7 linked regions of the Homo sapiens genome follow. The protein of the gene in region 2 interacts with the protein of the main gene of each other region in a biochemical or structural test. Each region holds a gene or a part of one and is shown on either strand. Other genes may lie near its edges.

Evidence for each region.
Region 1: the proteins of TJP1 (region 2) and CLDN2 form a complex in vitro, tested with the Homo sapiens proteins (2 studies listed by BioGRID and IntAct, with this or other methods).
Region 3: the proteins of TJP1 (region 2) and KIF17 interact in a test that uses a peptide from one of them, tested with the Homo sapiens proteins (one large-scale study listed by IntAct).
Region 4: the proteins of TJP1 (region 2) and MYOZ2 interact in a test that uses a peptide from one of them, tested with the Homo sapiens proteins (one large-scale study listed by IntAct).
Region 5: the proteins of TJP1 (region 2) and MARCHF3 interact in a test that uses a peptide from one of them, tested with the Homo sapiens proteins (one large-scale study listed by IntAct).
Region 6: the proteins of TJP1 (region 2) and JAM2 form a complex in vitro, tested with the Homo sapiens proteins (2 studies listed by BioGRID and IntAct, with this or other methods).
Region 7: the proteins of TJP1 (region 2) and XKR7 interact in a test that uses a peptide from one of them, tested with the Homo sapiens proteins (one large-scale study listed by IntAct).

Annotation. Positions count from the first base shown.
Region 1 is NC_000023.11:106,926,386-106,930,849, reverse strand, and holds part of CLDN2 (claudin-2), read right to left. Parts: intron 2,800-4,464; 5' UTR 2,622-2,799; coding exon 1,929-2,621; 3' UTR 1-1,928. UniProt on the Homo sapiens protein: Forms paracellular channels: polymerizes in tight junction strands with cation- and water-selective channels through the strands, conveying epithelial permeability in a process known as paracellular tight junction permeability.
Region 2 is NC_000015.10:29,706,830-29,711,293, forward strand, and holds part of TJP1 (tight junction protein 1), read right to left. Parts: intron 4,172-4,464; coding exon 4,002-4,171; intron 2,208-4,001; coding exon 1,730-2,207; intron 1-1,729. UniProt on the Homo sapiens protein: TJP1, TJP2, and TJP3 are closely related scaffolding proteins that link tight junction (TJ) transmembrane proteins such as claudins, junctional adhesion molecules, and occludin to the actin cytoskeleton.
Region 3 is NC_000001.11:20,690,508-20,694,007, forward strand, and holds part of KIF17 (kinesin-like protein KIF17), read right to left. Parts: intron 1-3,500. UniProt on the Homo sapiens protein: Dendrite-specific motor protein which, in association with the Apba1-containing complex (LIN-10-LIN-2-LIN-7 complex), transports vesicles containing N-methyl-D-aspartate (NMDA) receptor subunit NR2B along microtubules.
Region 4 is NC_000004.12:119,134,028-119,139,091, reverse strand, and holds the start of MYOZ2 (myozenin-2), read right to left. Parts: upstream 3,261-5,064; 5' UTR 3,110-3,260; intron 2,581-3,109; 5' UTR 2,567-2,580; coding exon 2,491-2,566; intron 1-2,490.
Region 5 is NC_000005.10:126,872,981-126,877,444, forward strand, and holds part of MARCHF3 (E3 ubiquitin-protein ligase MARCHF3), read right to left. Parts: intron 1-4,464. UniProt on the Homo sapiens protein: E3 ubiquitin-protein ligase which may be involved in endosomal trafficking. E3 ubiquitin ligases accept ubiquitin from an E2 ubiquitin-conjugating enzyme in the form of a thioester and then directly transfer the ubiquitin to targeted substrates.
Region 6 is NC_000021.9:25,714,827-25,718,693, reverse strand, and holds the end of JAM2 (junctional adhesion molecule B isoform 1 precursor), read right to left. Parts: 3' UTR 1,132-3,867; downstream 1-1,131. UniProt on the Homo sapiens protein: Junctional adhesion protein that mediates heterotypic cell-cell interactions with its cognate receptor JAM3 to regulate different cellular processes. Plays a role in homing and mobilization of hematopoietic stem and progenitor cells within the bone marrow.
Region 7 is NC_000020.11:31,991,727-31,996,190, reverse strand, and holds part of XKR7 (XK-related protein 7), read right to left. Parts: intron 1,124-4,464; coding exon 921-1,123; intron 1-920.

The sequences.
Region 1 (4,464 bases), on a different chromosome or scaffold from region 2:
GTGTTTATTGATCACCTACTGTGTGCCTGGCACTGTTACAGATAGTCTGGGGGATACAGAGAGGTCTAGGATATGGCCCCCACCCACCGAAGGGTTTACAATATACTTGTGAGATCGGACACACACACACAAATAACGATCAATCAAAAATTGTGAATGCTAAGCATCAAGAAGCAATTTATACATTGAGGGTTGGGGGAGGGAGGGGTAGGAGAGGGATGGAGTGATCAGAGAAGGCTCAATGAAGGAGGTGACGCTGAGGAAGTTCTCCAAGCCTGAGGAGGACTTGGCTAAGGGGAGACGGCCTTCCAGGTTGGGAGAGCAGCTGGAACATGGCAAGAAGGTGGACATGTGAAAGGCATGTTACAGACAACAGATGGGCCCTCTCTGCTGACAATGAGGTTCGAGGAGGTGTGCTGGAATTTTTCAGAAGCCAGTCATGCCTAGACTGGTGAGGGAAAATACCTTTGGTGTATGACCCCTCACTCCCACTCCAGGGTAAAGGGAACATTTTCGGACCTTAGAGGTGGAACTGTCTTCCTGGGAACCATTCTCCACTCCCACCTCAGCTGCAATCCCAGGCAGCAGTGCAGCTATCACTCAGATCATGGACACAGCACCGTGGGCATGGATATGCCATGCTGGAGCCCTTAGATGCCCTCTAGCCACTCTGGAGCATCTTCCGATGGACAGTGGGGGAATCTGAAGGGGCTCGCTTGGTGCTATGGTCTTTCAGAGGCTCTGTAGTGCTCTGTGGGTGGACCCTGGGGGGGCCTGATCTCATTTGAGCTGATTTTCCATTACGCCTGAAGAGTTTCTAGGGGGCTGCCTCTCACTGGCAGAGTAGAAACACCCACTGGAGCCACCACACACATCCACCTGGCTTCTTAGACACCGTCAAGGAATGGTGTCTTCCTCAGTACCCCACAGCTCCCACACTGTCATCCCCCAGCCAAGGGCCATCCCTAGAAAAACTGGTTTACTGTTCCTAAGGAAACCATTGTCTATAGCCCTTAGCCTTGTGGTTTAGGCAAGAGGCCAGGTCAGGTGCCCTAGAGTGAGGCAGGGGCTTCAGCCAAAGTTGTGATCGCAGCTTCTGAGGCAGTTCCTCAGTGGAGTCAGAGTCCGCTGCCACCTGAGCTTTCCACCAGATCTTCTTTCCTTTCCTTGTGCTTTCCTCAAGCTGCAGGCTTGATCCCAGCCCACAAATATGAGAGAATTCTGGAAAGTGCCCTGAGAAATGGGTTCTGGGTTTTTTTTTCATTTTTATTTTTTTAAATGTCCCAGGCTGCCTTCCTGTCCTCCCATCCTGCATCCTGCTTTCTGTTCCCTGGATACCGTAGGATGGTTTTATTTCAGTTCATGCACAAATTAGTCTGGACACTGTGGAGTCATAACAAGAGTGGGATGGAGGTTCCAGGGCCAATCAGTTTCTTTGGAGGGAAGCTTGAGAAGTAGGTTAGAGCAATGCCCACAAAAGCCACTGCTTCTCCTTCCCATCCCCAGCAATGAGCTAAGAGCCAACCTCAGCCAGAGAGAGGGTCTTTGATCACAGAGGGTCAGTCAGTGGGATGTGATTAGTGGGTTTGGGGATGGAGTCCCAGGTAAACCAGAGGGCAAAGGGATCCTCTGAGTCCTGGCTTAAGGGAATGGGGTTTCAAGTTGAGGGTTGGGGACTTAGGGCAGGGGAGCAGCAAGGTGAGGAAAACAGAAAGGCTGGCATGGCGAGCATCCTTGGCAATTCAACCTGCATGCTGTTACACTAGCCCCCATTTCTGCCTTTGCTCAATCCAATGGCCAAAGTCAGTCTATCCTCAGCAGCACCTTCTGACACGATCCAGTGGTAGTGTCCCTCACCTGTGGCCCTCGGGGTGCTGTCCACTGTTTTTCACAGACCCAGCCACCCCCCAGCTCTGGCCCCTGGTTCTTCACACATACCCTGTCAGGCTGTAGGAATTGAACTCACTCTTGACTTTGGGAGGTTGACCAGGCCTTGGAGAGCTCCTTGTGGCAAGAGGTTGGGCTTGGTAGGCATCGTAGTAGTTGGAGCGATTTCTCTGGGATGAGCAGGAAAAGCAGAGGATGATTCCAGCTATCAGGGAGAACAGGGAAGAAATAATGCCCAAGTAAAGAGCCTCTCCAATCTCAAATTTCATGCTGTCAGGCACCAGTGGTGAGTAGAAGTCCCGTAGGATCCCATGAAGATTCCAGGCAACAGGAATGAATCCCAGGAGGCCTCCAAGGATGAAAAAGACTCCACCTGCTACCGCCACTCTGTCTTTGGCTCGGGATTCCTGGCAGAAGACTGTGCATCTCATGCCCACCACAGAGATAATGCAGGCCAGGGAGGAGATTGCACTGGATGTCACCATCATGGCCTGGGCAGCCTGGATGTCAGCGGGCAGGCCCAGAAGGGTGCTATAGATGTCACACTGGGTGATGCCTGTGCTGTGTGTGGCACATTCCATCCAGAGGCCCTTGGAGAAGCCAACTGCTGTCACAATGCTGGCACCGACATAAGAACTTGTTTTCCAGCTGGGGAGCAGCATGGCAACCAGTGTGCCCAAAAGCCCCAGAAGGCCTAGGATGTAGCCCACAAGTTGGAGGCCAAGAGAGGCCATGGCAGACCTCTCAGTAGAAGCGTCTTCAGGGACTGCTCCCTTGTCTTCAGGCTGAAGCTCTTGCTCCTTGAACACCTCTAATCCCTCATTTCAGAGTCTCTCTGCCAGGCTGACTTCTCTCCTCCTTACAAGTGTCTGTGGGTGGCCACAAGCAGCCTCAAGAAGGCATCTAGAAGACCTAAAAAAAATCCATAAACCAGATTAAATATTGACCAGAAGCTTATGAGAAACCAGAAAACGCTGGATGCCTTTTGACCTTTGTTATCTTTAGAAATAACACATGAGAAAGGAAAAAAAAAACAACTTTGAACGTGGAGCCAAAATGTCATCGCCTCCTGCGTAGGCACATGCCTTAGGTTGGCAGCTGGACAAAGCCAGGAGCCAGACAGGTGGCTGCTTTCCGGGAAGGTGATGATGGCAGTGGTGGTTGTGGTGGCTGTGTTAACTCAAGTGCTAGTCTCCAAGGCCTGCTGTTTAATACATTGCCAAGCAACAGTGCCATAGGGCCCCTCAATTGCAGACTGAGGCCAAACTGCAGACTACATCAGGAGGAACAGATCCTAGAATGTAGTCTTGGACTCCAGTTTGTTAGAGGCCTCTTGAATCTCCAGGGGCCTAGAGAGTAGTGGCCTAGCCCTGGATCATTCTGCCCATGGTGAAAATCTACTCCAGGGTAGATGGGGGTGGGCAGCAAAGCCTTCTGTCCATACTCTGAGAGTTCAGATCCTCCCAGCCATGCCCAAATCCCCCTCTGCAGCCTAGTCTAAGGCCTCCTGCATGTATAACATGCCCAGACATTTCCTGTCCAGTCTCCTAATAGATGCTCCCATCATCAGCCTCTTGGATGATGAGGGAGCACTCTGGAACAAGGGTTCCAGGACTGAGAGGGGGCCCTGAAATTCCCTGGGCCATCTGTTAGGGGGGACAAGAGTCTGCCACAGAGGAAAGGGAAACTGCTCTAGAATATAGGGCTTTGCATGAGGCAGGTATCTGAGTCAATGCTTTGGAATCTCAGAGCCATATAAGATTTTGCCGTGTTCAAGGAGCCCTCGGTGTTGCCAAGATTCAGGACACTAAGGGTCAAGGGCACACCTCCCCATTCTCTACAAGACCCTCTGATCCACTAATTTTTCTTTCTTTCTTTTTGAGACAGGTTCTCACTTTGGCACCCAGGCTGGAGTGCAGTGGCATGATCTCGGCTCATTGCAGCCTCGACCTCCTGGGCTCAAGTGATCCTCCTGCCTCAGCCCCACAAGTAGCTGGGACTACAGGAGCGCATCACCACACCTGGCTAGTTTGTGTGTGTGTGTGTGTGTGTGTGTGTGTGTGTGTGTGTGATCCTCCTGCCTCAGCCCCACAAGTAGCTGGGACTACAGGAGCGCATCACCACACCTGGCTAGTTGTGTGTGTGTGTGTGTGTGTGTGTGTGTGTGTGTGTGTGATCCTCCTGCCTCAGCCCCACAAGTAGCTGGGACTACAGGAGCGCATCACCACACCTGGCTAGTTGTGTGTGTGTGTGTGTATTTTTTGTAGAGACCAGGTTTTGCCATGTTGCCCACACTGGTCTTGAACTCCTAAGCTCAAGTGATCCACCTGCCTCAGCCTCCCAAAGTGCTAGGATTACAGGCATGAGCCACCGTGCCCGAACTAACCCACTAATTTTTCAACCCACCACAATCTGGCTATTCCATTTTAGCCTTCTTCAAGATTTCTCTTTCCCTACTCATCTCTTAAATGTGAGTATTCCTCAGAAGTCCATCCTTTTCTCAATTAACACTCTGTCCCTGAGCAAACTCATCTTGCCCCCATAACTTAATCTACTACCCATCCACTGACCCTCCCA
Region 2 (4,464 bases):
TTGTATTTTTAGTAGACATGGGTTTTCACCGTGTTGGCCAGGATGGAACTCCTGACTTCCAGTGATCCGCCCGCCTCAACCTCCGAAAGTGCTGGGATTAGAGGCATGAGCCACCGTGCCTGGCTGTTCTTCCATTTTTAGTGACACAAAACAATGGTGCATCTCACGGCTGACAGCATCTCAGACTTGATAAAATCTCCCTAGGATTTTAAGTGTGCCTGAGTATGGTCCTGCCTCAGCATTCCCTGAGGACCAAGCGCCCGCTCTGGCTGTAGGAGGCAAGGCTTCCAAGGTTCCATGAGGCGAAGACCCTTGTATGGGCATATCCCAAACATCCACGAAAGAGAGACAGTAGATTAACTTAGTAATCACAGAACGCCAAAGGCAAAGGGGATGTGGTATCAATGACTGCTTCAAAAGTAGAGGCTATCAACTTCCTGAAAGTACAGTTTTGAGCCAGGGCTCAAAGGTGAGCAGAAAGACCAACGAAACAGAATTACATGAAGGTAGCTGCCGTTTCACTCCAGCATGACCGGAGTGCCAGGGACGACATCCTACGACACAACATCAAGGGAGCAGAGCGCAGCCTGAGCTGCAGAGCAGAGGCCAGCTCTGTCCGCCCCTGACCATCTGTGGATGTGCAGAGCTAGGAAGGCAGTGACCGCCATAACCATCCTTTCTCTTGGAAAGCAGACTCAGGTGGCCATCCTGACCTTTGGTTCTCCCTGCCTGCAAGTGCTTCTGCTTTATGGTGGCGTGAAAATGGAACTGGCTGTAGGAGGCTGAGATGAGCTTTTATGTATGGCCAGAATCCATCTGGTCAATCGCCGTGGAATGAAAGACAGGAAAGAGGAGCTGCAGGGAGGCTCCAGGTGGGCTCACTTTGTCTCATTTGCTCAGCCATCTCACTAACTGCTGCTCTTTAAACAGTCAGAGGTTATTCTATTTTTCTTCTTAGCATCATTGTGGAACAAATAATGAATGAGGAACATAGATACTTAATGTTTTTAGATGTCCTCCACATGCACCTTACCAGTAGGTCAGGAGGTTACAAAAGGTCATGGCTGGTTAAGAGTATGGGCTCCTGGCTGGGTGCAGTGGCTCACGCCTGTAATCCTAACACTTTGGGAGGTGGAGGCGGATGGATCACTTGAGATCAGAAGTTCAAAACCAGTCTGGCCAACATGGTGAAAACCTCTACTAAAAATACAAAAAATTTAGCCAGGCGTGGTGGCACACACCTGTAGTCCCAGCTACTTAGGAGGCTGAGGCAGGAGAATTGCCTGAACCCAGGGGGTGGAGGTTGCAGTGAACCAAGATCGCACCACTGCACTCCAGCCTGGGCGACAGAGGGAGACTCTTGTCTCAAAAAAAAAAAAAAAAAAAAGCATGGGCTCAGAGGTCGGATGACCAGCAGCTAAATTGAGGCTCACCTCACTCTAGCTGTGACCCTGGGCAAACTGCTTACTGTCACTCAACCTCAGTTCTTAGTAAAACAGGGATGATGACAATACCTACCAACCATACACGACTGTTAGCTTTATTATTTTACCAACATCTTGTACCTCCTGGAGGACCTTCTATGTAACAGCATTCATTGCAACAACACTCTTCAGTTTAAAGGTTGAGTTAAAAAGATCACTTTAAAGTCCCAAGTCAAATAAACTACAACAAACTCACATGAGAAAAATCACAGGGCCAATGCTTTGAGCAAAGGCATAAGTCTTACCTCACAGGAATAGCTTTAGGCACTGTGCTGATATTATTTATTTGATATTTAGGCTTCTCTGCATGGATAGAGAAAGTTTCAACTCCACTGTCAAACTCAGGAGGCTGTGCCAAACTGTGCGATTTCACAAGAGTTTTTGGAGAAGTGGGAGTTTTTGAAGACAAGTCAGGTTTATGTGCAGTTTCACTTGGCAGAAGATTGTGATTGAATTTAGGACTTTCAAACTTGCGTTCAAATGGTCGGGCAGAACTTGTATATGGTTTTGGTGTGAATCGATTGTATGCTGGAGTGACTGTTTTCTGAGTCTGTTCAGTTCCATTAACTGGGGCTTTATCTGGAAAACTTTTCTGGGGATAGAAAGCTGCCTGAGCAGTATCTTCTCGGTTTGGTGGTCTGAAAGTTGCTGGCTTATTCTGAGATGGAGGTGGGTCTGGTTTGGACACTAAGGAATTCTGAAAATCCAATGACACTGAATTACCTGAAAAACAAACGTAAGCATTTAAATAACTTTCTGAAAAAAGTTATAATAGCCCTGTCCCAGCTTAACTTGTCCTGGTGCTGGAGTCGAGGCCCAAATGTGGGTCGCACAGCCAGAGCCTGACTCTTGAGCCCTGGAGGCTAGGTGTGATGCTGAGGGATGAGGGCAGCATGGACAGGTGGTGCCATGAATATATATACCCTGCTGCCCTGGAGTCAGGGTCCAGCTGCTAAGATTCCTGGCCTCCAAAGATTGGCACTAGTCTTTGTGAAAACTAGAATGCCCAATAATCATATAATAAGGATACTCACTATTAATTAGAAAAATGTAAAACAAAACCAACAAAAAGCATTAAATACTATTTCACACCCACTAGAATGGAAAAACCGAAAAGTCTGATGATGCCAAACATTGGTTAAAAAGTGGAACCACAGGATTTTTTATGCACTGCCAGCCACAGTGTAACACAGTACCAACTGAACTCTGTGAAATAATTAAGGACACTACAAGACAGGAGAATTATTAATCCAAATACCTCATGAATATAGTAATATAATTTTCCACAGTACGAGAAGAAAAATCATATGGTCATCTTAATACATGCAGGAAAAACATCTGACTGCTTTCAGCAAACTCTGAATATAGGGAATGTCTTAAACATGATAAAGGACATCTACGAAAATCCTAGAGCTAACATTCTAAAGGATAAAACATGAGGTCCTTCCTCCTTAAAATCAGGAACTAGCAAAAGAGGTCCAATTTCACCACTTACATTTCAGAGTTTATTGGAGGTCCTGGCCAGTGCAATCAGCAAGAAAAGAAAGAAGGCTAGGTGCGGTGGCTCATGCCTGTAATCCCAGCACTCTTGAGAGGCCGAGGTGGGCGGATCACCTGAGGTCAGGAGTTCGTGACCAGCCTGGCTAACATGATGAAACCCTGTCTCTACAAAAAATACAAAAATTAGCCGGGCGTGGTGGTGTGCGCCTATAGTCCCAGCTACTCAGGAGGCTGAGGCAGGAGAATCACCTGAACCCGAGAGGCAGAGGTTGCAGTGAGCTGAGACTGCGCCACTGCACTGTAGCCTGGGCGAGAGCAAGGCTTCGTCTCAAAAAGAGGAAAAAAAAAAAGAGAAAAGGCATAAGGACTGGAAAGTAAGAATTAAAACTGTCTTTATCTGTAAACATGGGCATGTGTGAAAAAAAATCTTAATAAAAGATAGCCTCAATCCAGAACTATAACACATCTGCTTGAAGACTCACAAGCCCAAGGAGGTGCCTCCTAAGGGAATAATAAGAGAAGTCTGTGCTAGGAAAATGCCTGTCCACAGCAGAAGAGATAACCACTTTGTGTTATATGCTGAGGGTAAAATGTTACAAAGCTCTTAAGATGAATAATCTGGAGCTATATGTGATCTACCTGGTATGTAAATGCAAAAGTCAAGGTGTATGGGATACATTTTATATGAAACATTATGGCTTTTCTATTTGGGTGTGTGAGATAAAACATAGTAGGTTTTACAAACCATCTTTACATATACTGGCAAACACTACTTCCAGAAGATTTAGAGACTAGCATAAAATAGATTAAAATCTGTTTAGCTAAAAGGCTTGTCCAAAATAATGGTCTTGTAAAAACAGGAGACATACTTTTAACAAAATTCTTAGTTTTTACTGTTCCCAGCCCAAAGGTTTCAAGCATGTATTTTTTAATGTAAAAACCATTTTGCCTAGAAACCACCAGAATTTTACTTCATAAGCATTACTGTGTTAAAATGTCTACTTCCGAACTTCCTACCTTCACCATGTGCTCCCTTAGAATGTATGTGGAGAGACGCGCTGGTGACAGGCTGAGATGGCTGGGCATACTGCGAGGGCAATGGAGGAGGAGGGGGAGTGGCCTGGATGGGTTCATAGCGTTTCTCGCCAAATGATCTATCCACACCATCAGCTTCAGGAGGCTTTCCCCTGTTAACAAATGAAGAAAATGCCAACACCTGAAAATGGACTCACATTTACAAAACAAGTTCTCATTTCTCCATGTATCTCTAAGTTAAAAAAAAAAACTAGAAATTTCACAATTTATTCTCATGAGTATGGGTAGCTACTCTACCAAAATATAAAAACAGATTCGACCATTCATCGGCACAAGAAATGTCCAGACACACAAAAACTTTAAGAATATTAGTAAAACATCCAGAAGATGGCAACCAAAGGCAGGTGAAATTTTGGGTATAGTTTAATTGTTATTTACAAAAGAT
Region 3 (3,500 bases), on a different chromosome or scaffold from region 2:
GTTCTCAATGCTTTTTTGTTTTGTTTTGTTTTTGAGACAGGGTCTCACTCTGTCCCCCAGGCTGGAGTGCAATGGCATAATCATGGCTCATTCCAGCCTCGAACTCCCAGGCTCAAGTGATCCTCCTGCCTCAGCCTCCCAAATAGCTGGGACTATGGGCATGCCACCATCAGCAAAAAAAAATTTTTTTTTTTTTTGAGACGGAGTCTCGCTCTGTCGCCCAGGCTGGAGTGCAGTGGCGCCATCTCGGCTCACTGCAAGCTCTGCCTCCCAGGTTCACACCATTCTCCTGCCTCAGCCTCCCAAGTAGCTGGGACTACAAGCATCCGCCACCACGCTCAGCTAATTTTTTTGTATTTTTAGTAGAGACGGGGTTTCACTGTGTTAGCCAGGATGGTTTCGATCTCCTGACCTCGTGATCCACCCGCCTTGGCCTCCCAAAGTGCTGGGATTACAGGCGTGAGACACCACGCCCGGCCACCATCAGCTAATTTTTTAAAAAAATTTTGTAGGCCGGGCGTGGTGGCTCATGCCTGTAACCCCAGCACTTTGGGAAGCTGAGGCAGATCGCTTGAGGCCAGGAGTTCAAGACCAGCCTGGCCAACATGGCGAAACCCCGCCTCTACTAAAAATGCAAAAATTAGCCAAGCGTGGTGGCTTGCCTGTAATCTGTTACTGGGGAGGCTGAGGCATGAGACCACTTGAACCTGGGAAGTGGAGGTTGCAGTGAGCCGAGATCACACCACTGCACTCCAGCCTGGGTGACAGAGTGATACTCCGTCTCAAAAATAAAAATAAAACAGAAATAAATAAAAAATTTATAGAGTAGGGGTCTCACTGTGTTGCCCAGCTTGGTCTTAAACTCCTGGCCTCAAGTGATCCTCCCACCCCAGCCTCCCAGAGTGTTGGGATTACAGGCATAAGCCACCACACCCAGCCTCTCAGTGCTTCTTTTTTTTTTTTGAGATGGAGTTTCACTGTTGTTGCCCAGGTTGGAGTGCAATGGCATGATCTTGGCTCACTGCAACCTCCAACTCCCAGGTTCAAGCGATTCTCCTGCCTCAGCCTCCCAAGTAGCTGGGATTACAGTTCAGTTGTCCACCACCACGTCTGGCTATTTTTTTTTTTTTTTTTTTTTTTTAGTAGAGACGGAGTTTCACCATGTTGGCTAGGCTGGTCTCGAACTCCTGACCTCAGGTGATCCACCAGCCTCAGCCTCCCAAAGTGCTGGGATTACAGGCATGAGCCACCATGCCCAGCCTGCTCAGTGCATTTTTTAACAGACGAATAATATATGCATTTGTTTGCAATCTATTTTATCCACACAGCAATATATCATGAACACCTTTCCATGTTGGCAAATACCTTTCTGCCTAATGGTCCTCAACCCATCAATGACAAAATATGTTTTTATTCACCCACTTCTCTCCATCTTTGCTATCACTGCCAGCTCTCGTCCAAACAGCCACCTGGTTCTCACCTCTGTTCTCACTCTGGCCCCAACCTCTCTCTGACACAGCCATAGTGCCCACCCAGGTGTCTCCCCTGCTTAGGATCTGCTAATGGTATCCCATGTTCATGGATGAAATCTAAGCTCCTCAACTTGACCTGAGACCCAAGTGATTTGGCCCTGCCTCCCCCTCAACTGCTATGATGCACATTTGGGGACTCCTAGACACACCCACTTCCTCCCTGCCCCAAGGCCTTTGCCCTGCTCCCTGGCAAGCACCTTCCCAGGCCTCAGCTTAGTAACATCCCTCAGAGAGGCCTTCCCTGACCATACTCTCAGAAGCAGAAGGCCTCCTGCACTGCTCCCTGTCCCTTCCTCTATTGCTTTTTTTTTTTCCTCTGGAGACAGAGTATCGCTCTGTCACCTGGGCTGGAGTGCAGTGGCTCAATTTCAGCTCACTGCAACCTCCACTTCCCAGGTTCAAGTGATTCTCCTGATTCTCCTGCCTCTGCCTCCCAAGTAGCCTATTACATGTGCATGCCACCATGCCTGGCTAATTTTCGTATTTTTGGCAGAGATGGGGTTTCGCCTTGTCGGTCTTGCAAAGTGATGGGATTAGAGGCGTGAGCCACTGTGCCCGGCTTCTATTTCTTCTTAACACACTTCCTGAGCTTCTATTATGCTATTTATTTTCTGTGTGTGTGCTCATGAATTTGTTTTTACTGGGGTGTAGGGTTGGAAAATGCCACCTTGGGGGCATGCTTCTCCCCCAGGAAATGTTCATTCTGATCTTCCTGGGATGGTTTGTGGGACTCTTTCTTTTTTTTTTTTTTTGAGACAAAGTCTCACTCTGTCACCCAAGCTGTAGTGCAGTGGTGTGATCTCAGCTCACTGCAACCTCCACCTCCCAGGTTGCAGCAATTCTCCTGCCTCAGCCTCCTGAGTAGCTGGGACTACAGGCGCATGCCACCACGCCTGGCTAATTTTTGTATTTTTAGTAGAGACGGGGTTTCACTATGTTGGCCAGGCTGGTCTCAAACTCCTGACCTCGTGATCCACCCTCCTTGGCCTCCCAAAGTTCTGGGATTACAGGCATGAGCCATCACGCCTGGCCTGTTTGTGGGTCTTTTTCTTCTTCTTGGAGCTGATCTTGCTACCAGTGGCCTCTCCAGGCCCATTGCTGATGGTTTCTCCTTGGAAGAGAATCTCCTCTTTTTCTTGGCAATGCTCCTATTGCCTCTCCCTCAGGGTCACTAACTGTTTCCTCCTTGGATGATTACGTCCTCATCTTTTTTTTTTTTTTTTTAGACAAGGTGTCACTCTGTCACCCAGGCTGGAGTGCAGTGACGCAGTCTCAGCTCATTGCCACCTCAAGTTCCAGTGAACCCGAACCCCAACCCCGGCTCAAGCAATTCTCCCACCTCAGCCTCCCGAGAAGCTGGGACCACAGGCACCCACCACCACACTCGGCTAATTTTTTGTATTTTTGGTAAAGATGGGGGTCTCGCCATGTTGCCCAGGCTGGTCTCTAACTCCTGACCTCAAGCAATCCACCACCTCAGCCTCCCAAAGCGCTGGGATTACAGGAGTGAGCCACCGCACCCAGCCTCCACCTTGGGAAGACATGCTGCCAGCTGTCTCCCCAGGATCACCACTAGCCTGCTCCTCCTTGGGAAAGATTTCTTCTTCTTGGGTTTGGAGAGACGAGTCTCCCATTTTATTCTCCTGAGGAGACCCCTGGGGCTTTGGCTTTTGCTTCTTTTGGGGGTTTTCAACCATTTCACTACTCCAGGATGAGGACTCCTGGGAGACAGCCAAGGGCAGGACACACTTGCCCAGGGAAGGGTGTGAATGGGTGTGAATGGGTGTGAATGGTGTGTGAGCTCTCTCAGCAGCACCCTCCTTCCTCACAGCCCTCTACAGCTGCTGTCTTCTGACACCAGGGCAAGGGCCGCCAGTTGCTTCTTTTCCTTCCTTGGGTCTCTTCTGTCTCTCCAGCTTCCTAGTAATCTCAGGAGCTGCTTTTTCTTTCTGAACCATTGCTTCCTTC
Region 4 (5,064 bases), on a different chromosome or scaffold from region 2:
GAGCAACAATTTGGGGTTGTGATTAGTGGAGGCTGGGAGTTATCCACCTCTCACTCATTCTATGCAGTTAGCATTATAATCTATATGAAGAGAATTTTTTAATAATTCTTTGAGGTTATCACTCCTGATGGAATGAGGGCTCTGATGTAAAACTCCCCATTTCTGGTTCTTATATTTTTCTAGTGATTTATCTCAAAGACTCACCGGCTGCAATCTCTTTCCCCTACAAGAATGGGATTGAATTTCCACCTCATGTTAAGAGGACAACAAGTGATTTAGCCAACTCATTGTCACATTTTATACTCCTCCAAGCTAAATGTTTTGGTAAGTAGTAATAAAAATTAAATGAGTTATGAGGCTGAAAAAAAATTCTGATGCACAAGGGGAAAGGAGAGAAGGCAGGAGAAGGGGATTTCGACTGGAACATCCTTTTCAATTTATCTTTATAAAGGACAATCCAGGCAAAATTTGATTTATTTAGTCTTACAATTAAGATCAAAGCAGTTGCATGTTTTATCTTAAATTATCCAGATTTTTACTCCTGTAAAATGTTTGAAAGTTTGGAGGATCATTCCCAAAAAAGTTTCTCTGAAGTCCATTTTATTATGCATCCTGAGAAAAAATTATACTCCCCTAGCTCCAGATCTCTAAACATCATGCTATACACAAATAGTAAAGTTCCATATAAAATGTCAGAGGAAATAAGAGAAGAAAAATATTTGAGCGGTTTCATAAAGTACTGAAGTTATTTCATCTGGGATGAGCTTGGAAAGAGTCTGATTATCCCCATGTTATCTGAAATACTTGACATTCCAACAAAGACAGAGCATGTGACTCCTCTTAAGGGAGCTGGTACTCATCCAGTGACATGGGAGGGAGGGCTTCAGCTGACTTTACGTGGCTAGGATTTACTGGTGGTGAGATAGTGGTTTTGAGGGTTTCCCCCACTTTGATATATAATTGTGTGTTTTCTCCCACATATTTTTTATAAAAACAATAGTTATGTTTATAAAAAAAAGGAAAAAAAACTTCTTACCCTTATAGATCTATGTCAGAGCTAACAGTAGATTCCAACACATGATTTAGGCTAGAATACATTAAATGGACTGACTGTTTTATGATTAGGATGTCATTAGAAAATAATAACATGAAAGGTCTATTTTAAGGTAAACAATTTTGTCACAAACTCCAGTGATCATCTGATTTTTGCCACATTGATCAGAAAAGCTAAAAAATAATTTCAAGTAAACTACTTGAATCTGGAAACACAAAGATGCATGAAATTTTAAATAAGGCATGAATTTTGGAACTTTGGATTGGTATGAATTCAGTTCTGGTATCTGACTCAGAATTATTCTCATTTTATTCCAAGCTAATTTGACATTACAGTAAAACATGAGAACCAAGTTGAATCCAGTACAGTGGTTCTGTATTGCAGAAAATAGAAAACAACAACGGACCTCTTAGTTATGATTACATTGCGTGGGGAGCATCTAAAAGTCTTTGATTCTGTTCCTCTTGCTTTATGGAAGGTGTAATATGAAAACATTATGCTCAATACTCTTCCCGGGTCTCAAGCTTCTAGGTCTCAATATTGTAGTGGTGAAAGGCTGCATTCCTTGTCAATACAGGGGAAATAAGGAGGCATTCTGAAAATGCCACTAATATATCTGGAATGGCTCAAATCAGCTCCTAAGAGGACCTGAATATTTTTCTTAACATTTAAAACTGATGCTATACGTTGCTTATAAACAAAGTTGAATTTCCTTTATAAGAATCAAAATGCAAGTTATAAAGCATTGCTTTCTCAAGTTAGTTGCTAGAATTTAAAGAAAAGGAGAGAGTGAAATATTACCTTGCACGTAATATATATTAAAATTTTTTTGAGTCATATGCTTTGAGACTACAATAACTTTATATTTTCTCAGAAGTTACAAATAAAAGTAGACTTTGCACACAAAATATGTTAGTAAATCAATTAACAAATATGAAGGGTTAAATAAATAAGCAATAGAAATGGAGTTAAATAATAAGCAATAAATATGAATTCCAACTTAATAGCTTGATAAAAAAGATGATAGAACTTATTTTGAGTGATTTATATAATGTAAGGTAAAAGAAATCAAGCTAAACCATGTGGGATGGACAATAAAGACAAGATTGTATGAGACTTGTCCAGAAAAAAAAAAGAATCGAGAGTGATCTTAACTTATAATGTGGAAGGCAAGCCAAGCAGAATGTACATCAGCTGTCAGATTGCTTCATGCCTTTTACAGCAGTTGTTCCTCTGAAAATAGCTTCCAAATGAGAAAGGATGACTACAAAAGGATTAGTTACCATAGGCTTTTCTACACCCCCTAGAGCTCCAGGTTTGTTATGACAGAACAGCAAGAATCTAAAGGAAGTAAACTATGGAATATTAAACAACGTCAGGATGGAGCCACATTCATGCTGTGCTATATTAATGCTACGAAGGATTTTTATTGATACCATTTCCATGGACTTCCTTCATGATGGCTGTTGCTTGCTGTTTTCTCTGCTTCATCATAGTATTATGTGATAGCATGGTTTTTTTGTTCCCTGTTAAAAACAAAGGGACATTATTGAGGCAATGTGAAGAACTCATTTGGAGTGTCTTATAATCACTGTTTTGAAAGACAACATCTTTGTTCTTTATTAAAAAGTTATTATCGCTTGCTACTGAAAGACTTCAATACGCATTCCTTATCTGGTGACAGAGTATGTTATTCATTGACAGGCAATGTCACAGTGAACAGAGACCCAGTCTGGACATTAATACAATGATCATCAGGCAGTGAGAAACAATGAAATTGCTGGTCTCCTTTCCCCTCCCTCTCTTTTCTCCACAGTATTTTAGTCTGTCATTGTCTCCTCACTGGCCTTCATTTGTACCAGCATCACACTCCATCAATTCCAGCAAACTGTAAGAATGAAGAAGACACTAGACTAAACCAGAATTCTTTGGTGGTAGCATTTTAATATTGGCAACAGCTGCCCTTTAAAGCAGAGAATGCCCATTTATGAGTCACAACTCTGAATATCCTTGGACAACTGACTAATGAAACATTTTAGGAAACAACATACTCACCTTGCTGTTAGATTGTGCTTTTTCAGCGGGGATGAATCCCAGTTTGTGGAGGAAGACTCTGGAGATGGACTATGGATGGCACTTGGGCCTGATGGTTTTTATCCTTGAACCTGGGACAGCATGGTCCCTACTCTGACTCAAACTGGGGACTGAGCTTTTCTGAAGAGACTGGCATTCAGCTGACATCAACTGGCTATATATAGCACCAAATACTTTAGCTACTCATATCTTCCTGGCGAAAGGGAGGAACAGGGAAAGATTAGGCTCTCTCCATTGTGTTTCTAGTTTGTGAGATGGTTAAATGAAACGTTCATTGGACATGCAGAAAGTTTTTAGTGAGCACTTTCTGTTGAACAGATAGTAGCCAAAAGGGATTTTAAACACTTTTAAACATCTAGCTCTTATGTTACATGTTAATTGAGGTGGCAAGAGACACATGCATGAATCAGAACAGAATGATAGATTTTTCATAATTAAAATGAACAATATAGGCAGTAATATCTATGTAGACTCAAGAAGAAAGGAAGTAATGTGGGGTGGATCAATAGAGCCAGTTCTTAAGCTGTAGTGAGAACTCATGCTAGGTTGAGAAAAGTATGTAGTATTTGAATAGTGAACTCAGGAAGCATTTTGAAATGAACCATTAGAGGATAAGCCATGAAGCTGGGTAAAAGCTGAGACTCATAACTGGGTCATGCTTTTTGAAGGGCCTACAGAGACCAGTCCCTGCAAAGTTGACCAGTCTTTACAATGTCTAGGGTCAAGGATTTTCATTTGCAGGCCTGACAAGATTTGAAAGGTTTGCCTGTCAAAAGGTTTGGCCTCCTTGATGGTCCCTGGACACAAAAACGTGCTCTCATCTCTGGGCTTTTCCTTTTACTGTTTCCCCCTTTCCTTTTACTATTTCCCCCTTTCCCTGGTTGAAATGGTGTCCTCAACAGATAATCATTATGTTAATTTTGGTTTCCAAAATGAAAATAGATACTGTATTCCTTTTACTATTTCCCCCTTCCATACTTTCCCTCTACTCACATGGCACAGTCATGCATTCAGGACTCTGCTCAGATAACAATCCCTCATAAAATCCTTCCCTTATCACCTTGTCTAAAATATCACACTGTGCCACTCTCTAGTCCCTTACTCTGCTTCATTTTCTTTATATTTTTCTATTAGTTAAGATAAAAGTCAAATGGGAGTGACAGAAACCCCCCCAAAACAGAACTGTAAAAAGATGGAAGATGTTTCTCTCACAGGTAAGCTTAGTCTAGAAGTAAGTAATTGAGGGTTTGCATGACTGACATAATTATCAAGGGCTCAGTTACCCTCTAACTTTTTGCTCCACTATCCCTAAAATGCAGACCCCTTGGGCCTAATTGGCTGCCCCAGCTCCAGTCAGCATGCATATATTTCAACCAGCAGGAAAAAGAAAAAAAAATGAGAAGGGAACACTGTCTTCTTTTCAGAACATGTCTGATATTTTGTTCATACTTCTGTTTACATCCCATTGGGCAGAACTTAGCCATATAGCCGTACATAACTCAAGAAAGGTTGGGAAGTGTAGCTTCTATTCTAGGTGGTCATGAGCCCAATTAAAATTCATACATAACTTACTAACAAAGAAATAATTGTTGCTGAGTGACAACTCAGTTTTTTCACTAAGAACATGCCAACATTATTCTATCTATCTATCTATCTATCTATCTATCTATCTATCTATCTATCTATCTATCTAGCAAAAGTTTATGTTATGTACAATTCTAAAGGTTGAAATGGCGTCCTCAACAGTTTTACTAGCACCTGTAATCCCAGCTACTCTGAAGGCTGGGGTGGGAAGATTGCTTGAGTCCAGGAGGTAGAGGTTGCATCTATTTATGTGATATCTCTTTTTTCTACTAAACTATGAATCCTATAATGGCTTGGGCTTTGTATCTTCAGCAGTTGGAATTGTATCTGGC
Region 5 (4,464 bases), on a different chromosome or scaffold from region 2:
TGCAGACAATTATTATACTAATAAGGAACTTTGGCAATATAAGAAGTCTGGAATCTGGGAACATTACGGGAAAGCTGGATTTCAAATCAAGAGTCCCCTTTTCCATGATGCTGAGAGCTGTGCACACTGGCATTAGTAATTGGAGAAGTAGTTATGAGTGCAGGCCGCAGGCTCCGGAGCCAGGCACACGGGCCTGCAATCTGCATCCTCTACTTAGTGGTTACGTGACTTGGGGAGGTTATTTGCTGTCAACAAGCTTCAGTTTCCTTGTTTGTAAGATGTGAATAATGATATTTGATGTAATGCATATAAAACACCTAGCACAGGGCACAGAGCATACATTTTAGTGTTCTTGGGCTGGTATTTTGTGTGTCTTAAATATAAGAAAGAATTTTGTGACACCCTTTAGATACAGGGTAACAGAAAAAGAAAAAAAAAAAAAAAGAGAGACAGAGACAGATTGGGCTATTTCCTTTAAGGCTCTGCTCTCGGCGTGGTCCTGGACCAGCAGCAGGCTGCATCACCTGGGAGCTTGTTAGAATATCAGAATTTTGGGCCCCACCCAGACCTAAGGAATGAGAGAGTGCATTTTAACAAGACCCCCAGGTGATCCGCATGTGCATTCAAGCCTGAGACGCACTGCTTCAAGGAACACAGGGAGTCAGCGACTTAGCAGGTCTCCTGGTTCCATGGCCAGGAAATTAAAAAATTCAGCCCACTTGTGTAGACAAACAGATGAGATCTTATTATACATTAATCTATTTTAATTGTGGTTAATCACTACAGTCTGCAGGCAAATTCAATTAATAAGAAGAAAGCAACATAAGAAGATGCTTCTTTGTCAGGGAAAATAAAGGCAAGTTGAGCACAACGCCAAGGAGACCACAGGTTTGCATTGCCCTGGGTTAATGCTACTTCTCTAGATGCTCCAAGACACTGCATCCCTGCAATGCAATATAATTGGAAAGAAAGGAGGTCTAATTTAGAAGAAGAATAAGGCAGCGAGGAAAAAGAAAACATAAAAAGATGCTCCAACAATAATGTTAGGAATTTCACTTAGATATTTCTTAAATTTTTGAGTTTAGGAGAGAGGAGGAAGAGAGTATAGGGCCACTATTATAAAAATACTGCTCCTTATGGGATGCGCTTCCTGAAGTTTCTAGTTTATTCATCTAACTAACCTCCTATCATGGGCAAGTCTGCTGTACAAAGAGTTGTGATCGCATGAATATTATGAGAAGGGTTAGAAAATGTTAGCATCCACTCTTCCCATTAGGGAGGTGACTGCGGCTGGGGCAAAGGTGTGCTATAAAGTCACAGCAGGCGGCCTGGTGCAGTGGCTCATGCCTGTAATCCCAGCACTTTGGGAGGCCGAGGCAGGCAGATCACCTGAGGTTGGGAGTTTGAGACTGCCTGACCAACATGGAGAAACCCCGTCTCTACTAAAAATACAAAATTAGCTGGGCGTGGTGGCACATGCCTGTAATCCCAGCTACTTGGGAGGCTGAAGCAGGAGAATCGCTTGAACCTGGGAGGCGGAGGTTGCGGTGATCTCGGCTCACACCACTGCACTGCAGCCTGGGCAACAAGAGCGAAACTCCCTCTCAAAAAAAAAAAAAAAAAAGTCACAGAAGGCTTTGGGATATCTGATTACATATTTTGATTTTGCCCTTTCTCTCTGGAAGTGGTGTGACTTAGGGATATCGATGGGACTAGGCCTTGGCAAACGGCCTCCTCAGCAATGTGCCCAGCTCACCTATCTATCTCTGACTGCACTGGGGAAAAGGAGTATAGGAGTGAATTGGTCATGGGGAAATACCGCTGAATACCCTCAGGATGCTTGTAGGCCGTGTGGGGGATGTGTCTAAAGCAGCCCCACAGTGAGCCTTGTTGGGACAGCGTTCCATTGGCAGTTCCCCCTTTATAAGAAGAATTTAAACAATCAAACCTTGGGACTGGGAGTCACACTTTGAGGAACCGGGTCGCTCATTCATTCCCTTCTGTGCTGGACACTGGTTGCATCAGTGATGCAGTGAGTGGAAAGACTTCCTGTACATGGTGCCTCAATTCTCCTCCAAACTCCAAACTGGGGCTGATACCAAGTCCATTACCGACAATTTCTTCATGTTTAATGTGGACTCAGTTCTCAGCCAGCTCTCTTTGTGTCTGTCTACGGGTTTCAAATCACTTGTGACATGGACAGTGATGTTTCTAGGACACCTCTCCCTGAGCTCTTAGGGTGGAGCTGACCAAGGCCCTGGCCTCCTGGGGCCCAGGTGTGCTTCTGGAACACAGCAGGTTCCAGAAGGTGGGACTCCATGAGGGTGTGTCAAGGCTGGACCTGCATGGCCACGTGTGCCTGCGAGAAACTCCAAGGCACTCTGAGGCGTGCAGCGTGAGCGCTTGTCCTTCTTCACAGTACCAGGGAGGCCCTTCCAGGAACGGCTCCTCTGAGGAGCCAGGCTTGGACTGACACCGTGTTTGTTTATCTAAGACATTTTCACAGCATATTCTCCTTAAGCTTGACAGCTTGTTTACAATGGGTTTCTGCCGCAGGGCAGTTTCCAAGTGCTGTCAGCTTCTGAATTACGGCTCTTGCCAGGGCCGCTCAGCACAGCATTTATCTGGGACGGAGTTATTCTATATTCAGTAACCTATTGCTGAGCTGACTCCACAGCACGTTTTTCACACCAGTCAAAGGGGGAGAGATGCCTTCTTTCCCTCCTGCTACTTTGCATTCTATAAAGGGCAGGGGGAGGGTGGAAGCTGGGGGAGCAGGGAAGCCGCAGGAAGGAGCCTGGGGCCAACACTCTGCTAGGTGCTTGCATGTATGTTCTCAGACGTTATCTCACTTACTCTTTGCAATAACCGATTGACCTAGCGGTTATCAATTATTTCCTGTATTTTTTTGTACAAGAGGAAGGATGAACAGAGAGGTTAAGTATCCTATTTGAATTTACACTGTTATTAGGGTGATAAATCTTGGGTTTAAACACAGGGCCCTTGGATTCTAAACGCATGCATAGCACTGCCCGTGAGAAACATTTCTGGAATGAAGTATGTTACCATTTTCCTGAAAGAGCCTAGTCTAGGTACCTTTTCTACCCAAACCTTCCTTTCACCTGAGATGGGAGATGAAACGAGGTCACATCCATTTTTTCTTGAGATAACCTTTCTTTTCTTCCTTTCTTCCTTCTTTTCCAGCCACCTATCACCCTGTTTCTTTCTTGTTAGATAAGTGTATGCTTTACAAAGCAGGATTTCAGAAAGGCCTTACATTGGTTTTGAAAGCCCAGCATTTAAGCTCACTTCATCCATCCTTCATCATAGGCACTCTTCTAAAAAAAATTATAGACTAGAAAACCTCTAAACATGGCAAGAACTTATATTATTCTCCAAAGTACTTTCCCATAAACACTTTGACTTAAATCTCATAACACCAGGGGAATTTGGCAGGATGGGCATTACCACTATTTCCACTTGACAGATGAGGACACTGAGCCTCACAGAAGCCAAATGACTTTCCCAGGGTGGTGCTGTTGACCAGGAGTTAGATAGTGCTGCTTAGACTCCTTCATTTCTTATTTCTAACCCTCCTCCCATCACAATGGAAGCTACTGGAACAGCTTCGTTGCCTGATTCAAAATGAACCAGGATGAACTTTGGAAGCGTAGACTTTTTTTTTTTTGAGATGGAGTCTCACTCTGTCACCAAGGCTGGAGTACAGTGGCACGATCTTGGCTCAGTGCAACTCTGCCTTCTAGGTTCAAGCAATTCTCCTGCCTTGGCCTCCCAAATAGCTAGTATTACAGACATGCACCACGATGCCCAGCTAATTTTTGTATTTTTAGTAGAGACAGGGTTTCGCCATGTTGGCCAGGCTGGTCTCGAACTTCTGACCTCAAGTGATCCGCCCGCCTCAGCCTCCCAAAGTGCTGGGATTACAGGCATGAGCCACCGCGCCCAGCTGGAAGCGTAGACTTCTAAAGGAAGCAATAATAGTTTTGCTTGGGGCTTCACTAGCCTGGGAACAGAATGTCTAAATTAACCATAAGACTCAGATAAGTTCTTAGCATTAGAACACTCCCTCTTTACTGAAACTGAAATGTATCTCCTTACTGTTTGAACACTCTCACTGGAGGGGAGGCACAGAGCTGGAAGAGCCATATGATGAAGAAGAGGGAAATGAACAGGGTTGTGGGAGTGGCAGCTGGAGGAACAGGGTCTGGGAGACACAGAAAGGGAGGAAGTATGTGCTAGAAGCAGCTTCCACATGCTGACACTGTGCTATGGGATATGGGAATGGTACACTTTAGACAGGAAATACATATTGAATAACAGTGGAACGTGCTCAGATTAGAAACGAGCAGGCACAGGAGAGTAATGCCAGGAAGCAGGGGGCCCAGCTTCTGAAAATATTCTAGAAGACAGTGATGTCCTTCCCTGCAGCTCCCAGAGGAAAGC
Region 6 (3,867 bases), on a different chromosome or scaffold from region 2:
TGTGACAGAGAAGCGCACAAGAATTTAAAAGGACTGGGCTCGGCTGGGCACAGTGGCTCACGCCTGTAATCCCAGCACTTTGGGAGGCCGAGGTGGGCAGATCACAAGGTCAAGAGATCGAGACCATCCTAGCCAACTTGGTGAAACCCCATCTCTACTAAAACCACAAAAATTAGCTAAGCATGGTGGAGCGCGCCTATAGTCCCAGCTACTCGGGAGGCTGAGGCAGGAGAATTGCTTGAACCCTTGAGGTTGCAATGAGCTGAGATCGCGCCACTGCACTCCAGCCTGACGACAGAGCGAGACTCCGTCTCAAAAAATAAATAAATACATAAAATTTAAAAATAAATAGATAAATAAAAGGACCGGGCTTAGGCCTATAGTAATGCCAGCAGTTTCGGAGGCCGAAGAGGGAGGAGCGCTTGAGTCAAGGAGTTTGAGACCAGCCTGGCGACGTGGCAAGACCCCCCTTCTACAAAAATATAATAAATAATTAACTGGGCATGGCACACACCTGTGGTGTCACCTATTTGGGAGGCTGAGCTGGGGGAATCACTTGAGCCTGGAAAGTCAAAGCTGCAGTAAGCCGTGATCGCGGCACTGAACTCCAGCCTGGGTGACAGAGCAAAACCCCATCTCAACAATAACAGCAAAGAATTTAAAAGGAAGTCAGCCTGGGGGTAGAGAAAAACATGGTGTGTGAAACATCCTGGATCAGACTGATCTGGGTCCCCACAGACCCTGATTCCTCACTCCTCAGCTCCATGAACTTGACAAGTCAGTAACTCTTGTTTCCTCATCTGCAAAATGATGACATTACCCACTTTATAGTATCGCTGAGATGAATGAGATTTTCTACATCCTCACCCCCATCCATCCCCACCTCTGACATATATAAAGTGTTCAATAAATAGTTGTTGCTTTTTATTTTCAGAGCATTTTTCTCAGCATTTGAGAAGTTGGCAGCCATCCAGAGATGATGACATTCTAATCTTAAGCAGCTAACCAGCAGCTAGCCTTGTAGCTACAGAAGGTAAGAGGGTGTAGTTTCCTGGGTTTTATGAATAACAATAGGTGGATGACTCTTTCCCTGCACTGTTATATGGGGCTAAAAAGTTTAACAAGTTCAGCTATTTTTATTAGTGTAGACTTTAATCGAACAAAGCCACCTGTGGAAAAAGGAAGTTCTTTGCAAAGTTGTATTGAAAAGCAATCAATTGGTCCAGACTTAGGTCAAACCTCCAACTAAAAATAAATTAAATCTAGTTACAACAGCAACAATAATTAAAACAAAACAAAGCTTGCTAATAAGATTTTAAAGCCCTAATCTTTACACAACACAATTCACTGCAGGAAAATAAAGTCAAAATGCTGTAAGAATTACAATGGGATTTTACCAGTTGTTAGTGTTCAAGTTCCTCAAGTAAACACAAATGCAAATACAAGTCTGGACACCAGTGACCCACAGATACATATATATACTTTTAATAGGAAATTAGTGCTCAATACTCTGCCCTTTGTGTGGGGGAAAACATTCTTTTATACAAGGATTTTTACCTAGCTATTACAATAGTTTAAGGTAATGTACAATATATATTTGACACAGAGAGTGTTATTAGATGTTCGCACTGCATAAAATGAATCCTCTAGCCTTTGATGTCTTAAAAAGAAGTTTTACAACTATTAGTGAAGCTAAGGCACTACATATTTTCCTTCCACAATATGGATTTGTGTCATTTAAACTGAAGAAGTTGATCTTGTGTGATGACAGGTATGTCTGAAGAGGCGTCTTTCAGAGTCATCTATCCTCTTGGCATGCCAATGCAAGAGGAAAGCATTCCTCAAACCAAAGAAATCTTCCAACCAAAACATAGGTAACATTTAGCCTGATTTCTTACAAAAGCTTGTAGACAGGTGTTTTTTTCTGTACTTCACCACCATGAGTTGGGAATCTATGCCTGTGGGCCAAATCTTGTCTGTGCCTGCTGTTTTTGTAAATAAAGTCTTATTGGAACACAGACATGACTACTTGCTTGTTTTGTCTGTGGCTGCCTTTGTGCTACAATGGCAGAGTCAAGTAGTTGTTAACAGGGACCTTATGACTTAAAATATCTACTTTCTGGCTCTTTACAGAAAATGTTTGCCGATCCCTGACTCGTGGTGAAAATTTTATTTTGGGGGCAGAGCCATGTTACAGAAGCCCGACCTCCAGGAAGGGATCTGGTGAGAGACATAGCATGTCATAGACAAGTCAAAGGGGGAGCATCTTCCCGGTGGCCTGGTGTCCAGGCACATGCTAGGCACTCAGTGGGTGCTTAATCCATTTGTTCGGTGAATCCTGGGGATTTGCTTCGCCAATTGGGTAGAAAGAGCAGACTCTTTTGAAAGAAGATTAACCTGCCCAGTGCAGTGGCTCATGCCTATAATCCCAGCACTTTGGGAGGCTGATGGGGGTGGATCATTTGAGGTCAGAGGTTTGAGACCAGCCTGGCCAACATGGTGAAACCCTTCTCTACTAAAATACAAAAATTAGCCAGGTGTGGTGGTACACGCCTATAATCTCAGCTACTTGGGAGGCTGAGGCAGGAGAAGTGCTTGAATCTGGGAGGCGGAGGGGAGGCGGAGGTTGCAGTGAGCCAAGATTGTGCCACTGTACTCCAGCCTGGGCGACAGAGTGAGACTCCGTCTCAAAAAAAAAAAAAAAAAAAGAAAGAAGATTAACCATCATGTTCATAGTTGTCAAAGGTAGCAAGTGACCTTTTCATCCACATTTGCCCAGAAGAATAGGACATGCCCTAGCCATATTTTGTTTTTAATATCAATTCAGTAATTAAAAGAAGTTACAAATGATATGAATTTTTAACATAGTCTAATTGCTCTGGTAAACGGATCATTGGAATTTTCACATTGTAATAGTAGCTGGAAGCTTTTGTGGTTCATCGGTTGAGAAACCCACATTAGATCCACTTTTCGTTTGAGCCATTGCTCATGTGCCCACTGTGTTTCAAGAGGGGTACCAGATGCAGGGAGTCATACTGAGCTTTTTCGTCTCATTTTCCTGGTAGACTATTACTTCTTCCCTCCACATCCCTCCTTGTCCAAAAGCAGAATTGTCAACCCCTGACTAAGGGACTTGGCCCGGAATGTCACTGCACAATTTTTAGAGACAGAAAGATGTGAAGTCACCACTCCTGCAGGGAAAGGTATCTGCAAACTTGTGTAGGCTCCAGTGGTGAGTTCTGATGTCAAAGTCACTGATCCTCTTCAAAGAAATCTTACAAGAAGGAAGCAGTGGCAAGCAGCAGTAGGGGTGAAATAAGCCACTTGGGTTTGTGTTTGACCATCTAAATTACGTTTAATGAAGAAATCAGTGACACACACCAGGCAAATCCTGTGGTGCACACCTGTGGGCTCCAGCCATTAGGCATTTCTTTTGATGTTGCTTTTAGTTCCCAGGAATGGAAGTAAACACAAAGTGCAAATCCTTGGGCATAAGACCCATCCCGCTTCCTCCTTTCTGTGGGTGTGTTAGTGATGAACGAGCATCAGAATAAGGATGATATTAGGGGAGAAAAGAGGATTCTGGCAGAAATGAGACCAGAGGTTCCTTTTGCATCTGTCAGAGTATTTGTTGGACCCCCTAAATCAGACTCTCGTGCAGAGTCTGATTTATATTTTCATGACCTGTGGATTGACTTCACAATCAGTATGTTATATTTTAGTAACGTTCTCTAGAAGTTAGGACGTGGTTAACATTTCCCAAAGCCCAGGACATTACAAAGTATTTTAATTCTTTTAACTTAGTCCAGACACAAGAAGCCAGATTATATTTTAGGTGTCGACAGAACTATTTGTTTAAAATAGCAA
Region 7 (4,464 bases), on a different chromosome or scaffold from region 2:
TGGGAAATGAGGGTCCGGGACTCTGGGAGTGGAAGAGGAGGTGAAGAGGAGGTCATGATTAGGGTGTGGAGCTGCCAGGAGGGGGCCATTAGAAGTCGTGGGCCACCAGGAGGAGGCCGGGCATGGAGAGGAATATCTAGAGCTGAGCTGAGCAGAGCTGAGGGGCGGGGATGGGGAGACCCAAGGTGGGAAGCGTTGTGATTGGGACCCCGTAACTGGGCAAGGGGTCCCCAGGGCCATGAGGGGTGGTGATAGTCTTTTGGGACACTGAGGATGGGTTGGGCAGGGACTAGGTTGGGAGAGCACGGAGTGCTTCAGGGAGACAGGGGGATGCGGTTTTTCTCTGATATTGAGGGGCTCTGTCATTATGGAAGGGGCAAGGTGGGAAATTAACAGGGCCTGTAGGGAGGAGGAGGGGATGGGTGCCAGGACTAGGCCTGGGAGGGCCCCCCGGGGCCCCCCAGTGAAGGGGTAGGCTCTCTGGAAACTGATGGTGATTGGCCAGGTCTATGAGGCAGGGGGTCCCCAGGAGATGCAGGCTGGGATCAGGTTGGGGAAGGAAGTGGGCAGGGGATTCCCCAGAGGGTCTAAGGTGTTTGGGTGGGAGATGGGGTTTGGTTGGCTCTGGCAACGGGGAAGGGAGGAGGGCAGGAGCGCCCAGGGGGGCTGATGGGTGTCGAGGGAGTGGAGGGGCCAGGTCCCTCCTCACTCTGAGTATAAGTGGGCCATCGAAGGGGACGCGGGGGTCTCGAGAGGCCTGGAGGGTGGTGAGGGTAGAAGGGGCAGGCCTCCCTAAACCCTGACTGAGTGAGCCCTGAGCTGGGGTGGGGAAGCCCACAGGGCATCCCCAGGGAGCCTGAAGCAGGGAGAAAGGCCCGGTGGGGTGGTCCCAGGCGCAGAGGGTGAAGGGGCGGGCTCACCCGGCAGCAGGTCGGGCGCGCCACCGCGGTGCACCAGCAGGCTGAGCTGCAGCACTAGCTGCGGCGCGCTGCGCAGGAAGGTCTCCAGCAAGCGCAGCATGCTCACGTCGGCGCTCTCGAACAGCATCTGCCAGTAGAAGTGGCGCCGCAGCCGCTCCCCGCGCCAGCGGCTCTGCAGCCCCAGGTACAGGGCGCGCAGGTACCTGCGGGAAGGACGCGGTGCTCAGGCTCCCGCGCGCTGGTTCCTCTCGCTCTGTCGCACCAGCCCCGAGCCGCCCACAGGCGCAGGGGGCAAGTCACTCCCTACGCTGAGCCTGTTTCCTCAGCTGTGAAATGGGCATTTCGAAAGGATCACCTTATGAGGCTGCTGTTGAGGAGCACTGAATGGACTCATTAGCTTAGAGAGAGGACTGGCACTAAGTAAATAAAGCCTTTAATACAACAGCGGTATCGCCCTTATTCCTATAACGGTTGGGGCGTGCTTTCTTTGGAGGGTTACTGACACCTTGGAGTGCGCTGAGCTTACAATAGCCCTGTTACCCGACCCTTACTTTGTTTTATTTTAGAGATGGGGTCTCATTCTGTCACCCAGGCTGGAGTGCAGTGGTGCGATCTTAGCTCACAGCAACTTCAAACTCCTGGGCTCAAGGAATCTTCCCGACTCAGCCTCCTAAGTAGCTGGGACTGCAGGCATGTACCACTACACCAGGCTAATTTTTAAATTTTTTTCTGGCTATGTTGCCCAGGCTGGTCTTGAACTCCTGGCCTCATCTCAAGTGATCATCCTGCTTTGGCCTCCCAGGGTGCTAGGAATACAAGCATGAGCCACCGCACACGGCCCAATTCCCATTTTGTAGGTGAGCAAACTGAGACCCAGAGAGATATGTCATTTATCCAAGGTCACACAGCTAGGAAGCAGTAGAACCAGGACACAAACCCAGCCATTCTGGCCTCAGGGCCGGCACTCTAACCATTAGACAACACTGCCTCTGACTGTAAACCATAAAAAGTTTTGCTCACATAGGTTCCTTCCAGGAACAGTCCCTACTGCCTGGTGCCAGCCCCGGTTCTGTTGCCACCAGCAGCTCCCTGGCCTGTTCCCTTCTCAGTGCCCAGATGAGGTGAGATCCTCACAGCTCAGTGCCCAGCTCTCACCCCAGGGTGCAAGGAAGGTGCTCACAGACACTTTTCCTTGGCATCTGAAACTGCTGCTTCCTCTCATGCCACTTCTCCCAACAAACTCCGGCTCTTCTTGGCCACTCTGCACAGGTCACAGAGCCAGAGCTCACAATGTTCTCCCTCCTTGCTGAGGAATTGTACCTATTGTTTCCTCTCCCTAAAACACCCTGCCCTATCCCCTAACCCCATCCCGGCCCCAACCCGGGATGACTCTTGCTTTTCTTCCAAGGCTCAGCTTTTGAACACAATTTTGTCCATAAAGCTTCCGCTGACCACCTTCCACCTAGGGTAAGGGCCTCTCCCAGGCTTCCGTCTAATCTAGCTAGCACTTGTCACAGTGGGTTGTAACTGCCTGGTTATGTGCACATCTCCCCCATGCTGTGAGTACCTGGAGAATGACTAGGCTGGCTTGCTAAGTGCTGCATCCTCAGTTCTTAGCACACAGTAGGTGCTTAATCTATATGGGCTGAATGAATGAAAGTGTGCTTAATCTATATGGGCTGAATGAATGAAACACGACTGCAGGCTTGTTGAACTGAATGGAACTCTAGTAACCCTATAGGGGGTATAGAAGGGACTCTGAAGTCCTGAGATCAATCCCACTTTGCTTCTAATTTACTGTGTGATCTTGAGCAAGACCCTCTCTGAGCCCTAGTTAATCCCTCCCAAAGTGGCGGTGAGGATTAAATGAATGAAAAGAAACTTTGCACACTATGAAGTACAGTGCCCATGTAGGGTGAGAGGGGAACTCTCCACACAGATCTCTGGGTCTGATTTCCCTTCTGCCCTGGTTCCTTGCCCAGAAGCTCTACTCCTGCAGCTACAGACCCTGCCACCTTCCCAGCGCCCCCTACTCCCGCCGGCTCCCCAAACTCTCTGATTCACGGGGCAGGCACACTCTTTGCTGCAAACCAGAGGACTCTTCCAAAAGTGGCTTTCCCAGGAAACTGGGGGTGGTGTGTGTGTGTATGTGTATGTGTGTGTGTGTGTGTGTGTGTGTGTGGAGGGGGAACCCTTACACAGATTCTCTGACCCCGCTGCCTGGATCTGAAACTGGGGAGCCAGAGATTTGGGGTCTATTCCCAGGGTGAAGCGCTGGCATTTCCAGGATGTTGTTTGGGAACCAGGGGACTCACTCTATTCACAGCCCAAGGGAGGAAGTCACAGTTCTCCCTGGATGTGGGGCCAGCTGATACCAAATTTCCTCAAATGAGTATACTGGTCTTACCAGCTGTGTGGCCCTCTCAAAGCCTCAGTTTCTCCATCTGCCAATGAAAGGGATGAGTTTGATGACTCTGGAGATCCTTTCAGAGTGAATATTCTGGGACTCTCTCTGCAAAATGAGGCCAGGAACATCCCATTTAGGACCCTCCTCCCCATCCCTGGGTCATCCTGGCATCAGTCTATGGCATAAACACACCATCAACATAACACATGACAGGATTGGCAGCCAGGATGGGTAAGGGGGCTGTTCCCTCAGAAGCTGACTCTGGAAATGCAAAGCCCCCTCTGTCCAACTCTCCTGTGCCATGCTGGAATTCCTTCAGTCATTTCCAGCCTGGTGTATCTATACCCACTGCTCACACGCTGCCCAGGACAGGGACCTCAGCCTGCTGCATCTACACTCACTGCTCACACGCTCCCCAGGACAGGGACCTCAGCTTCTGAGCAGCTCCAGGTCTGGATTGTATTTCTTCTGATAAGCAGAAATTTGTCTCCCTGTATCTTCCATTTTCTGGACTCCTGCTTACCCCACACATAAGGATCCCTGCAGCCAGAATGATTCATTCATGTAGCAGGTGGATTCTGACCACCTGCTCTGTGCCAGGCTGTGTGCCCATATGTATCTCCCAGTCCCATGGAAGAGAGACAAGATAGGAAGTGAAATAATGCTATAAGATGCCTTGGAAGGAAGAAACATTTGATCTCAGTTTTTTTGTTTGTTTTTGTTTTTGTTTTGTTTTGTTTTGTTTTGAGACAGAGTTTCGCTCTTGTTGCCCAGGCTGGAGTGCAGTGGTGTGATCTCGGCTCACCACAACCTCCGCTTCCAGAGTTCAAGCGATTCTCCTGCCTCAGCCTCCCGAGTAGCTGGGATTACAGGCATACGCCATCATGCCTGGCTAATTTTGTATTTTTAGTAGAGACGGGGTTTCTCCATGTTGGTCAGGCTTGTCTCAAACTCCTGACCTTAGGTGATCCACCCGCCTCAGCCTCCCAAAGTGCTGGGATAACAGGTGTGGGCCACCACGCCTGGCCTGATCTCAGTTTTAAAGCATGGGTTGGCATCTGAAGGCACACAAGAGATGGAAGGTCATTCCAGGTGGGAGAATCAGCTGAAGCAAAGGCTCAGAGGCCTGAAAGAATT